2 separate regions of the Homo sapiens genome follow, and region 1 is linked to region 2. Evidence: fine-mapped QTL for protein levels in blood plasma. Region 2 holds a variant in brackets. A gene starts in the other region. All regions are shown on their reverse strands. Region 1 holds the start of C6orf58 (chromosome 6 open reading frame 58). Region 2 overlaps MRC1 (mannose receptor C-type 1).

What was found. A credible set is the group of variants that fine-mapping cannot tell apart. PIP is the chance, under the fine-mapping model, that this variant and not a neighbour inherited with it causes the effect. Protein levels are from antibody-based Olink assays in UK Biobank. Linkage for the fine-mapping came from a reference panel and not from the study's own genotypes, which makes the PIPs less certain.
Region 1: C6orf58 starts here. The variant in region 2 is the best candidate, but not a certain one, in a credible set for the plasma level of the C6orf58 protein (UK Biobank, PIP 0.84).

The regions. Positions count from the first base shown.
Region 1 is chr6:127,574,665-127,580,058 of GRCh38, reverse strand. It overlaps C6orf58 (chromosome 6 open reading frame 58), which reads right to left and starts at 2,885. Exons shown (of 6, transcript NM_001010905.3): 1 at 2,573-2,885; 2 at 1,287-1,373. The coding sequence starts at 2,873.
Region 2 is chr10:17,820,470-17,825,863 of GRCh38, reverse strand. It overlaps MRC1 (mannose receptor C-type 1), which reads right to left. Exons shown (of 30, transcript NM_002438.4): 2 at 2,389-2,790. Among named protein-coding and RNA genes, the nearest start is that of MRC1, 14 kb to the right of the region's middle. The variant C/T (reference allele first, on the strand shown) is at 2,199.

The DNA.
Region 1 (5,394 bases), not on the chromosome of region 2:
AAATATATAACATATTGGCTAAAGTAGTTGACTATATTTTAAAACAAAAAGTAATTTTAATGGATATCATAATATTCATTTTTTCAAAGCATTAAGTAAGAATGGAAGAAAGCTATCAACTTTTCCACAAAATGGTACAAAACCTCTCATTACGGTTTTATTGTGAATTGTACTTGTATTTTTCTCTAAAATATTTTAACATGATTATAGCTTTGGTAAATGAATGTTTTCTATTTTATACACATAAGTTTAATTTGTAATCATGATATCACTAAATTTTTATCTTATTTTATCCTTTAAAGCACAAATTTTGGGTAAGTTTTGACAATAGACCATTAGACTGACAATCAAACATGACTATTTTCACATTTTAAAAAATTTTACCTATATATCACCTATTCCAGCAGACTCAGACATTTTCATTAGTTGGATATTAGGCTTATACTGATTTCCACTAGAAATCAGTGATGTAGAATATTTCATCCTAGACAGGCATTTGTGAATGGAATCCTATGCCACAGTGTAGCAGGCTAATCCTCCAAACTACTAAACCAATCTAAGAATAACAAACTCTGAATTCTAGATCTGTGGCCACTACTATTCGCGAGTCTTTTAAAAGAACTAGGGGTAGTAAGTGGAAAATGCTTAAGGATACATATGATGTGTGTTGCCCTGAAAAAGTGAAATTTAATGTGGTCGTGTTTCTAACTATTGAGAAATACCTCTAAGGATTTGTGGTATAAATTGTTTTCATTACTAAAGCATAAAATTAAATGAAAGAATTAGAAAATACCTTCTGGTTATTTTAGCATTAAGTATATGATTAAAGCCTGAGATTACTGATTGGTATAATGAATTGCAGTAGGTATTAATCTCTGGCATGTTTATGGGTTTCAATATTAACCACATCTGGTCTGAGCAAAATGAAAAAGCATCATTTGTCTTGATGTCTCACTTCTCATCGTTCCTTATTCTGGAGATTCTTTGTCATCAGTTGGACCTCCCACCTAACTACCAGAGCTGGCCCCTCAGAGGCCACTGCTTTTGCAGAACCTTGTTTTCGTCCTTCTGTGAAAAGCTGGATATGTCCTAAGGAATCATTATTGACATTGTGGCTCTTAAATCCCTTAAAGTGACCTAAAGGCCATAAGGTACACGGTGAAATAGATTCCTTTTTAAAATAGGAACAGGATTATTTTAGTTCTGTCTCTGTCCCTAAGATTTTAGGTTTGAATGCTTTCTTTCAGGAAAGGTTAATATCTATTTTGCCACTTAAACGAACATACCAGCCCACCAACTGTCCACAGAGATGCACATATGATCTCCAGATTCATAGCCACAGTTTGTCCTTCGGGTTGGATCAGCTAATCTGCCTGGAGGAGAGAGGATGCACAGTCGTATTTATTATACGCATTTTGAAACTGGCTGTAACTATTGCTTAACCACATAGATTTTGTTTGTAGATACAAAAGCATTTATTTCTGAATGATATGTGTTTGTATTCCCATCATTCTTTTTTTATCTTTTATTTTTTAGTTTCTAATTTCTTTCCTTTTCCTTAACAACACAGTTTTCTACTTTTGAGTTATAGGTCCTAAATATTATTTACTTTTGTAAGGATACTCTCTTCTATTTCCTCCTCTACCTTCTAATCGAAACTATGAAGCAATATGCATACAGATGAAAAGAGATGGTCGAGAGTCAAAACAAACCCCTGCTCTACCACTTACTAGCTTGACTTTATCTAAATAACCTCTAATGCCTTAGTTTTCTCATCTATGACATGGGGATAATAATATTAACTACATTATAAGGTTGTGATGTGAGGTGAGAAAAAGCACCAAAGGTGTTTCACCTGTAATATGCATTATGTAAATATTAGAAAATAATCATTGTTTTTCTTCCAAATGAAATTGCTCTTTTCTTAACCTCTCTCTCACACACAATAATTTCTTTATTGGCTGTGTCATCAGCAGGGAGTGGGCAACAGGCACCACTCTTTCTCATGAGCTTCTATCAACCAGAACAAAAGTATCTTTCAATTCATGTATATTTTATCCCAAAATGTAACTTCTGTCTATACACTGTAAGGTACCTTATTTCCAAGAGGAAGCAAACATTTTACAGAGAAAGATCTTCATGAACAATGTGATGCTTCTTTATAACCTCATATCATAATTAGAACTTCAAGAAATTCAAACTAATTGGACATCACTTTGTATATCCCCTTGACTGTTTTGTTCATCTCATTGCTTAGAAAGGAGTGTGGCACTTAGTAGAACTTCAACAAATATTTGTGAAATGCTCAATAGATGAGATGTGATGTCTTTTCACAGTTGATAACTATGTCTTATGCCTCATTGAAGCTTCTAATAATAACACACAACCCACAAAAGAAGGATTTGTGGATAAGGAGAAGGATAGGTAGAAAAACAATGATTATAAGGGAAAAGAGAACAAGATAAAGAATCAATTTTTAAAAACATAGTAGGGTATATACAGAGTCCAATTTCCCAAATACTTCATAGGTCTATCGGTAGATCATTACAATGAAAACAAGAGTCATTCTTACCTGTCCTATATTGCCAGCCATACTGCAGAGGCAACCCCCATAAAATATTCTGTTCATTATCTGGTGCAAATTTTGCAAAATACCTGGCTGTCTGATTCAATATGATTTTATACATCCCCATTCTCTCAAGGTATACCCAGGGATTAATAATGTACATGCTGTTCTCCACCCTGTAGTCACTGAGCTGACCAGGACTCTCCTTCCACAGAGGGGGCTCTGTCTCTGAGAGATTGGAAGTCCCTGCTAAGGAAGCAGAAAAGGAACCAACTAGTACACAAACCCAGGAAGGAAGAAAAGCCATTGTGCCAGAGCTGGGGATTGCGATCGTAGCAGGGCTTTTATTGGAGAATGGAAGAGGAAGTCATGATATTTGCTAACCTCACAGCATATCAACACTTTGCTTTTTTGTTTTCCTGGATAGGGTGAAAATGTAGAAGAAATTGATGTATTAGCTAACATTTAGGACAATTAAATTTCCCAGACTCTTCAGCGTCAGAATACTGTGTCAGAACCTAAATACAAGGTTAGGCTTGTTTATAATGTATTAGATAAAACTATTTATCAACAAAAACCTTCCAGAAGTTTCCCAGGCTGCATTGTGATTACAAAATACATCACAAATGGCTTTAGAATGCTTCCCTCTAATAAAAATACTTTAACATATTTCATGGAAAATATTAAATAGCTGGAGATGGAAATACTAGGATTTATAATAATCTTCAAATGTGTACTAAAAATATGTGTGATCCAGTTGTAATACAATGTTCTGCTTCAAGAAAGAAGCTTAAAGAATATCTAATTAGCTCAATTCAATAATGAAAGTCAGCCTGCTGGAACAAAACCTGCTAGTTAATTCTTAATATCTATTTTTCATTCTTTATTAGTAAAAGAATCGTAGAATTTTAGCTGGGAATATGGTCTCCCAGAATTAAGGCTAAATTTCCAATTTGCTTTACACAAGCAACCATGTGACTAAGTGTGGACCACAGAGACATAAATAGAAATAGTATCCACAATTTCTGGAACATGTCCTAAAATGAAGGGCACATGTCAATTCCTCTTCCCTTCCTCCATGTTGTGGCTTGGATTATTGATGTGATGATTGAAATTCAATTCTGACCCCTAAACGCAAGGCACTATCTTAGGGATGACAGAATGCAAAGCTGGAGGTGGCTTGAGTCCCAGAGGGCTGTGGAGCCATGAGATGTCCTTGAATTCCTATATCTGAGTTTTACCTGAGCAAGAAACACCCCACTCTCTTGTTTCAACCACTGTTATTGAAGTTTTATTCACACATAGTAAAAATTCTTGCCTTATTAATAGGTAATGCATCTGAAAATCTCAATTATTTACACAATTAGATGCATATGCTTCATAGTAGGTCACTGGTACTGCTTGTTCCTGGCATGGTCCACATTAAACATCCTACAGCATGATTCCACTCTTTTTTCCTGTCATATTATTTACCCAATAGCCATTTGATAATTAATAAATTTTCCAGATATATTAATATAAAAGGGAATGGTAGGAATTGCTACTATAGATCAAGAATGCAATCATTCTGGAAATTTTAAAAGTATATTAAATGTTTATAAGAATATATACGTGAATATGTACTGTAAGATGTGTTACTCTAAAACCAAATGCCAGATTGTTCTCAATGGAGAAATCTTAAGAGCACTCCTTTAAGGTCAGAAATAAAATAAAAATGACCACCAGCATTATAATCATTTAACTTTTCTTTGAGGATACCAAACAATAAAGTTAGTAAAGATAAATAAATTAGAGGTATAAAATTGAGAATGAAGATGTGCTAGTACTTTCCCTTATAGATGATATGACAGTGTTCAGAAAACATAAGAGAATAAACTAGAAGGGTAACTACAAAGAAAAAATTTACTAAAGTGGTTAAGAACTAAATTACTATATATAAATCAATAGCTTTTATATATAAAAGCAATTGGGAAATATAATAGGTGAAAATGGAAGAAAAGTCCTCATTTTATTGTCAACAAAAGGGCCAACATATAAATGTATAATTATGGTAGATCTGTTTGGAAAAATCTCTAAGACTACAAAAAAATTGAACAGTTTTAAAGTCATACAATGTTTCTCAATAGACTCAACATTATCAACATGTTAATTTATAAATTTGTACAATAAATGAGAAATATTAACAGGATTTTTAGATGTGCTTTCTGGAAAGATTTTTAGGACTGAGGCTAAAATTTGCCTAAAAAATAAATTATGAAGAAAATACAAAAACTCTAATAATAATGGATAATAATAGTGAAAGGAAACTTTCCATAACAGATATTAGAAGATTATTATAAGCCCTCAAAAATTAAAGTAACACACCACAGTCATTGATGTAATAGTGTGACCAGTTACAGGTTAAATAAAACAGAAATATTGAACTATATTAGAGAAAGATTTTAAATGAAGACCAAAATACAAATGAGAATTTAAAGAGGAGCTATACTGGAACTAGATCTAGACATTGCTTCTATGTCCACTAGTGGAGTAGTTATTGGAATCCCATATACAGTGGGAAAAAAGTAAGAGCACATCTTGATGGAAAGATATTTGTTAAGGATATAAAAGAAATAATGTCAATAGTAGAATCTGGATCTTCTCATGCAAAAATTATTAATAGAAGAGGAAATAAGTTAGACGCTTACAAATAAACCTCAAATGAACATCAAACATATCACGGCATGCACTGATAGTTACATAACGTGATATTCACTCTTCTCTTATTTCTTTGTAAGAACACCCTTAATCCTTAGCACAACAGAGTCTTCCTGGAATAGAGATTATAT
Region 2 (5,394 bases):
TTCTTCGTACAAAGGAAACCAGTCAAGACCACCTTGGGGTTAGTTGTACTGGTCATCATTAGCCAAGAAATGTTCAGCGCTGGATTTACAGATGCCAATGACATATAGCTTTATTTACTTATTTTATTTTTGAGACAGGATCTCACTCTGTCACACAGGCTGCAGTAGGTGGCGCAATGATGGCTCACTGCAGCCTCAATTACCTGGGCTCAAGTAATGCTCCCACCTCAGCCTCCTGAATACCTCGGACTACAGGTGAACACCACAGTACCAAGCTTATTTTTACATTTTGTTTAGGTCTCACTAGGTTGCCCAAACTGGTCTTGAACTCCCGAAATCAAGTGATCCTCTTGCCTTAGCCTCCCAAGGTGCTGGGATTACAGGCGTGAGCCACCACGCCTGCCAGCTTTATTAACTAACTCTGTTTAATAACTACTGAGCCATTCTATACACCCAACACTGATGAGGCCAAAAGAACCCCAACTACCCCACTGACACATCATGTAACTGCAGTCAATTTGTCTTCTTCTTGGAGTCTGAACTTCCAAATAACCATCAAATCCATCTAAGTCTACAATTCTGGTTCCATTCTTCTAAAATAATTCCTATTTTCAAAAAGTTCCACCATTCTACCCCTCCCCCATGTTCTCATCAGAGATACAGAGACCCTACAATACATCCTCTCGACACTGTCTTCAGTTCTAATGTGTGTTCCCAATCTCGTGGTCACTCTGCAGAGCTAGAACTGAGGAGCAGGATCATCTTAAGTGCTGGGAGATCTTTGGGGAGTATGCAAAATGTAGTCAATAGACCCTATGCCACAGAATCACCCGGGTCTTCATAGAAATCATTGAATAGATTCCTGGGGTTTTTCCCAATATGTATATTAAGAATCTAGTAGAAGGGGGAGCTTAGGATCTATATTTTTAACAAACTTTCCAAGTGATTCTTAAGCATATTAAAGTTTGAGAACTATTAGCCCAAACCCTATGTATATTTGTCTCAAAACCAATGGGGAAACAGAAAGGGTAGGGGGTGAGGGAAGCATAATATTATATTTTAAAATAAAATAAAAATCCGATTTCTTAGCGCCAATCTTCCTCAAGTTAAACTCCTCAATTAGCACAATTGTCCCACCTGTGGAATTTGACTCCGTCAAGTTTAATTCACCCTTCTCCTTCCTTGTAATTTTCTGTTGAGTTTCTCCTGAAAGGTTTTTTTTGTGTTCACTTAGCTTGCCCCTCATATCACTTCTAAACCTATATTATGTTTGAAAAATGCTTCAAAATAACTTATTTCTGAGCCCTTCTCTCACCGTACTTCAATTCCTACTCTCCCTTCTTCTGTGCCTAGATGGAAAATGGAAAGCTCACAAATTATTGCCTTATAAAGAACTAAATTGCTATGCTCAGTCTTAGCTGAGATAAGCTAGGTTCAACCAATCTTAGTAGCCCCGTAACATAGCAATTTTGGAAACAGGTTATCTCTTGTCCCCAAAAGTAGGCTCTTTCTCTGACCTTGAGGTTGTTCTAGATAACACTTCACAATAACGAAGTATCCAAACCTAAAATGTGATTATAACATCATCTGACTCAAGAGACCAGCCTTTGTAACAAGCCTTCAAGTTGTGTTGTATTTTTGTTTTGTTTTCTGTGCAGCCACCAGATAGTGAAATTTGGTCAATATAAGAAAGAACTAAATACTCTGATTTTATTTAACCTTCAAGAGGTCAAGAAACCAACTACATATAAGAGGATTCCTCCCACCGCATTGGAGGTATCACCTTCTCTGATGGCTAACTAAATAGACTGCATATTAATTTACAAGCTAATCCTAGAGATTTTATAATCTTCTGATTATTACAGTCTCTAAATACCCATAACCTGACAAAATAAATCAGTAACATTTAGAATCCCATGTCGCCAAGGGATCTGCCGAGATTTCATCTTAGGCAATCTAAATTGGGAAAGAATGTTCTATGGATCATTTTTCCAGGGATAACTTAAAGGAAAAGACATATTTGGCTAAATGTATTTATCACTACAACTTTATAATGTTAACTAGGAGGCTTTGGGTCAAAGACTACAATGAAAACGATTTTCTGAAAAATGTAGCCCATAGTTAAAAAAATAAAACCTCAGAGAAAGTTAAAAGAATGTCTTCCCATTAAGTAAAAATAGCTGAAGTATCATTCAGGA[C/T]TTTTTAATCACATTTATTCACCATCATGTCCTCAGAATAGTCCTACAGAATAGTTGAAAACACAAAGATGCTGATCAATTGATATTTCTAGTACACGCCAAACAAGAACATGATGATTTTCTTGAATCAGGTTCCAACTAAGAAGACGAGAAAATTTCAACACGAAGGTGAAAATTCCAGGCATCTTACCTTCATAACCTCTGGAGCACAGATTGTCTGTGGTTCCATAGATCTTCCACCTGCTCCATAAACCCGATCCCTTGTAGAGCATAATATTCTTTTCTTGTCTGTTGCCGTAGTTAAAAAATAAATCTTCTCCTTTGATCCCCAAAAGTGTGTCATTTTTGCACTCCCATTTCTGAAATTCACTTTTTGAGTCACAGGCATAGAGAGTGATAGCAACCCAGTCCGTTTTTGATGGCACTCCCAGGCATAATTTAAATGCAACACTCATAATCTGAGATTCGGACACCCATCGGAATTTCTGTGATTCGGCATCCTGGTTGCAAGCTGCGGTTTGGACGGCACTGGGACTCACTGCATCCACGCAGCGCTTGTGATCTTCATTATAGATTAAAAATTGCCTGGTGTCTGTTTAAAAAGAAAGAAGCAGGAAAAGAAGAAGAAAGCAAGCATGGCTAAGTGGATTCATGTAACAAGGACGATCTTTTAGGTCAAAAGTTTCCAACTCTTCCATTTCCCTAAAGACTTAAGATTGCAGGAAAAGAGGTACTGATGACTGTGCCTGGGCCAGCTCTCTTCGAGGATCCCTGAAGCTGGAAGGAGAACCTGGACTGAGGGCCTGCCAAGGTACCAGCCCTCAGCTGGATGTTCTCAAAATGTCCTAGTTCACTGTGAGGAGTCTCATGCAAAGTCCCACCTTACATGCCCAAGGATTGTCCAGGAGTGGAACATACAAGGCAGAAAACAGAAAGGAATAATATCAACTGGGAAAAGAAAATTTGGGTAATACGAATACAATAAACTGTAAAATTAAATGCATGTATGTCCTAGAAAAGGTGTGTGTTTGTTTGTTGTTTTTAAAGGACAAGGTCTCACTCTGTTGCTCAGGCTGGAGTGCAGTGGTGCAATCATGGCTCACTGTAGCTTCCAACTTCTGGGCTCAAGTGATCTTCCTGCCTCAGCCTCCCAAGTAGCTGGGACTACAGGCTTGTACCACCATAACCAACTCATTTTTTATTTTTTGTAGAGATAGAGTCACTGTGTTGCCCAAGCTGGTCTTGAACTCCTGGCTTCAAGCAATCTTCCCACTTCAGCCTCTCAAAGTACTAGGATTACAAGTGGGAGCCACCTCGCCCAGACTAGAATAGGATTTTGTAGTGTGACACATCTCAACACATTTTGGTATTATTTGTTAATAATTTAATAGTGAAGTTTGCAATAAAGGAAAAATCAATGTAAGTTTTATATCATTGGAGAGAATATTTTATGAGAATAACTTTAAAAATAACATTTTTTATATTTGTAATTTGGAACTGGTGATTCAAGTAAATATGTAAGGATGGCTTATACTTAACAGCACATAGCTGCTAGCTGGCAAAACGGAACTTCCTCTTGCAAAAGAGGAAAAAAGGATCTGGTAAGCATTTTTTTTTCCTTTAATTAAATCAAAATTGAGTTCATGTAAAGCTTTCTCTTTTTTCTTTATTGTTAAGGAATAAACAAATGAAAGTAACTGAGTGCTTTGATTTTGTGACATAAACATAAATTAAACACATCTTGTGAAATTTTCCTAAATTCCATGCATTCACCTTGTTCTTTCAAAATGAGCTGGTAGTAGTGCAGATGTTTGAGGTTCTGACTAAATGAGCTCATTATTTTTAATTAAATAATTCCAGCGAAATCAAACAAAGTTAGAATCATACCACTAGTAGCGTCCTTCAGTGTTTCCAAAGCATTTTTGCAAGCTGTATTCTATATCCTGTTCTGAACACCCCAGGGAGGTTAGCACCACTTACACTCTGAGATCAGTTCTAGACCCATAAGCTTAAAGCTTATAATAAATTTTTGCCTCAAAAGATTATTTTCTCCTGACACGCTCCTCTGTATGCTCTTGTCCACACTAGTTCCAGATCTCCTGCCTCTATCCTACCTTGAAATGATCATCTCATCTTTAAAAAAAAACAAACAAAAAACAAAACCTTTATAGCAACATCCAGTCTGGTGCTTGATCAAATATCTGGGTACCAAGACCCAGCCATGTTGACACATAAAATTAACCACTGCAGTATATTTTTGGGTAAAGGTGGTAGATTTCACTATTGCCTTAGAATGCAAAAACAAGCTGAAAATCCAGGAAGATTCCTAGGTTTTTAGCTCATGGATCTTGGGGGATGATGGTGCCAAGAATGAGAAAGAGAAGTTTGGATGTTACGCATTAAATGCTGTCTTACTTAGAGTGAGTAAGACTTACTCTCGCTGCCTCTATGCCACCTGGGTTCCTAGTTCTCTGCAACTTCAAACCTCTGCCTGGGCTCCTCTGCTGGGTTACTCATTCATGCTGCTTTGATTTCTTGGAATTGGAACTCAGTAAAGCCTGGATCCAGACACCTGCCTCTGCTGGCTTCTCTGCACTTGACAACTGTTCACAGAACATGCAATACCTATCCCAATCTCCTCCTGTCTAGCTGAGCTTCCTTCCACACTTGATCTCATTTTGTAACTGCTCGTGCCCTAGTGGGACAAAATGAGTAATTTTCTACCTTGGCAATAAAATGAGAATTTTGATAATATAGGGCTTTGCTCACAATGGAACACAGGAAATAGGAAAATAAAAACGGTTTTTTAAAAAACAGTGACTATGATCATTTACTTTATGCAAAGGTAAATTATCTTCTCTAATCTCAAAATGTAATGAACTCTGAAACTTTTGCCATAGATATATGTAAACTCCACTATACTAGCCTCTAAATTTAATGTAATTTGTTTGTGTTATTCTACCTACTGTTGTTTTTTTTAAAGCTGGACTTATCTTCCACTTTTCAGATAGCTTTGCTTAGTAATACCTCATTGTTAATAATAGTAAATATATCTTCCACCTTATACTTTGGCCATTTTCACTGTATTGTCAAACAACAGTCTTATTAACTGGTCAAATTCAGTCAATTAACTGATTGGCAACCAGTCTTTTAAGAGAAGGCGTTCAAAAATCTTTATGCATGAACAGTGTTCCTC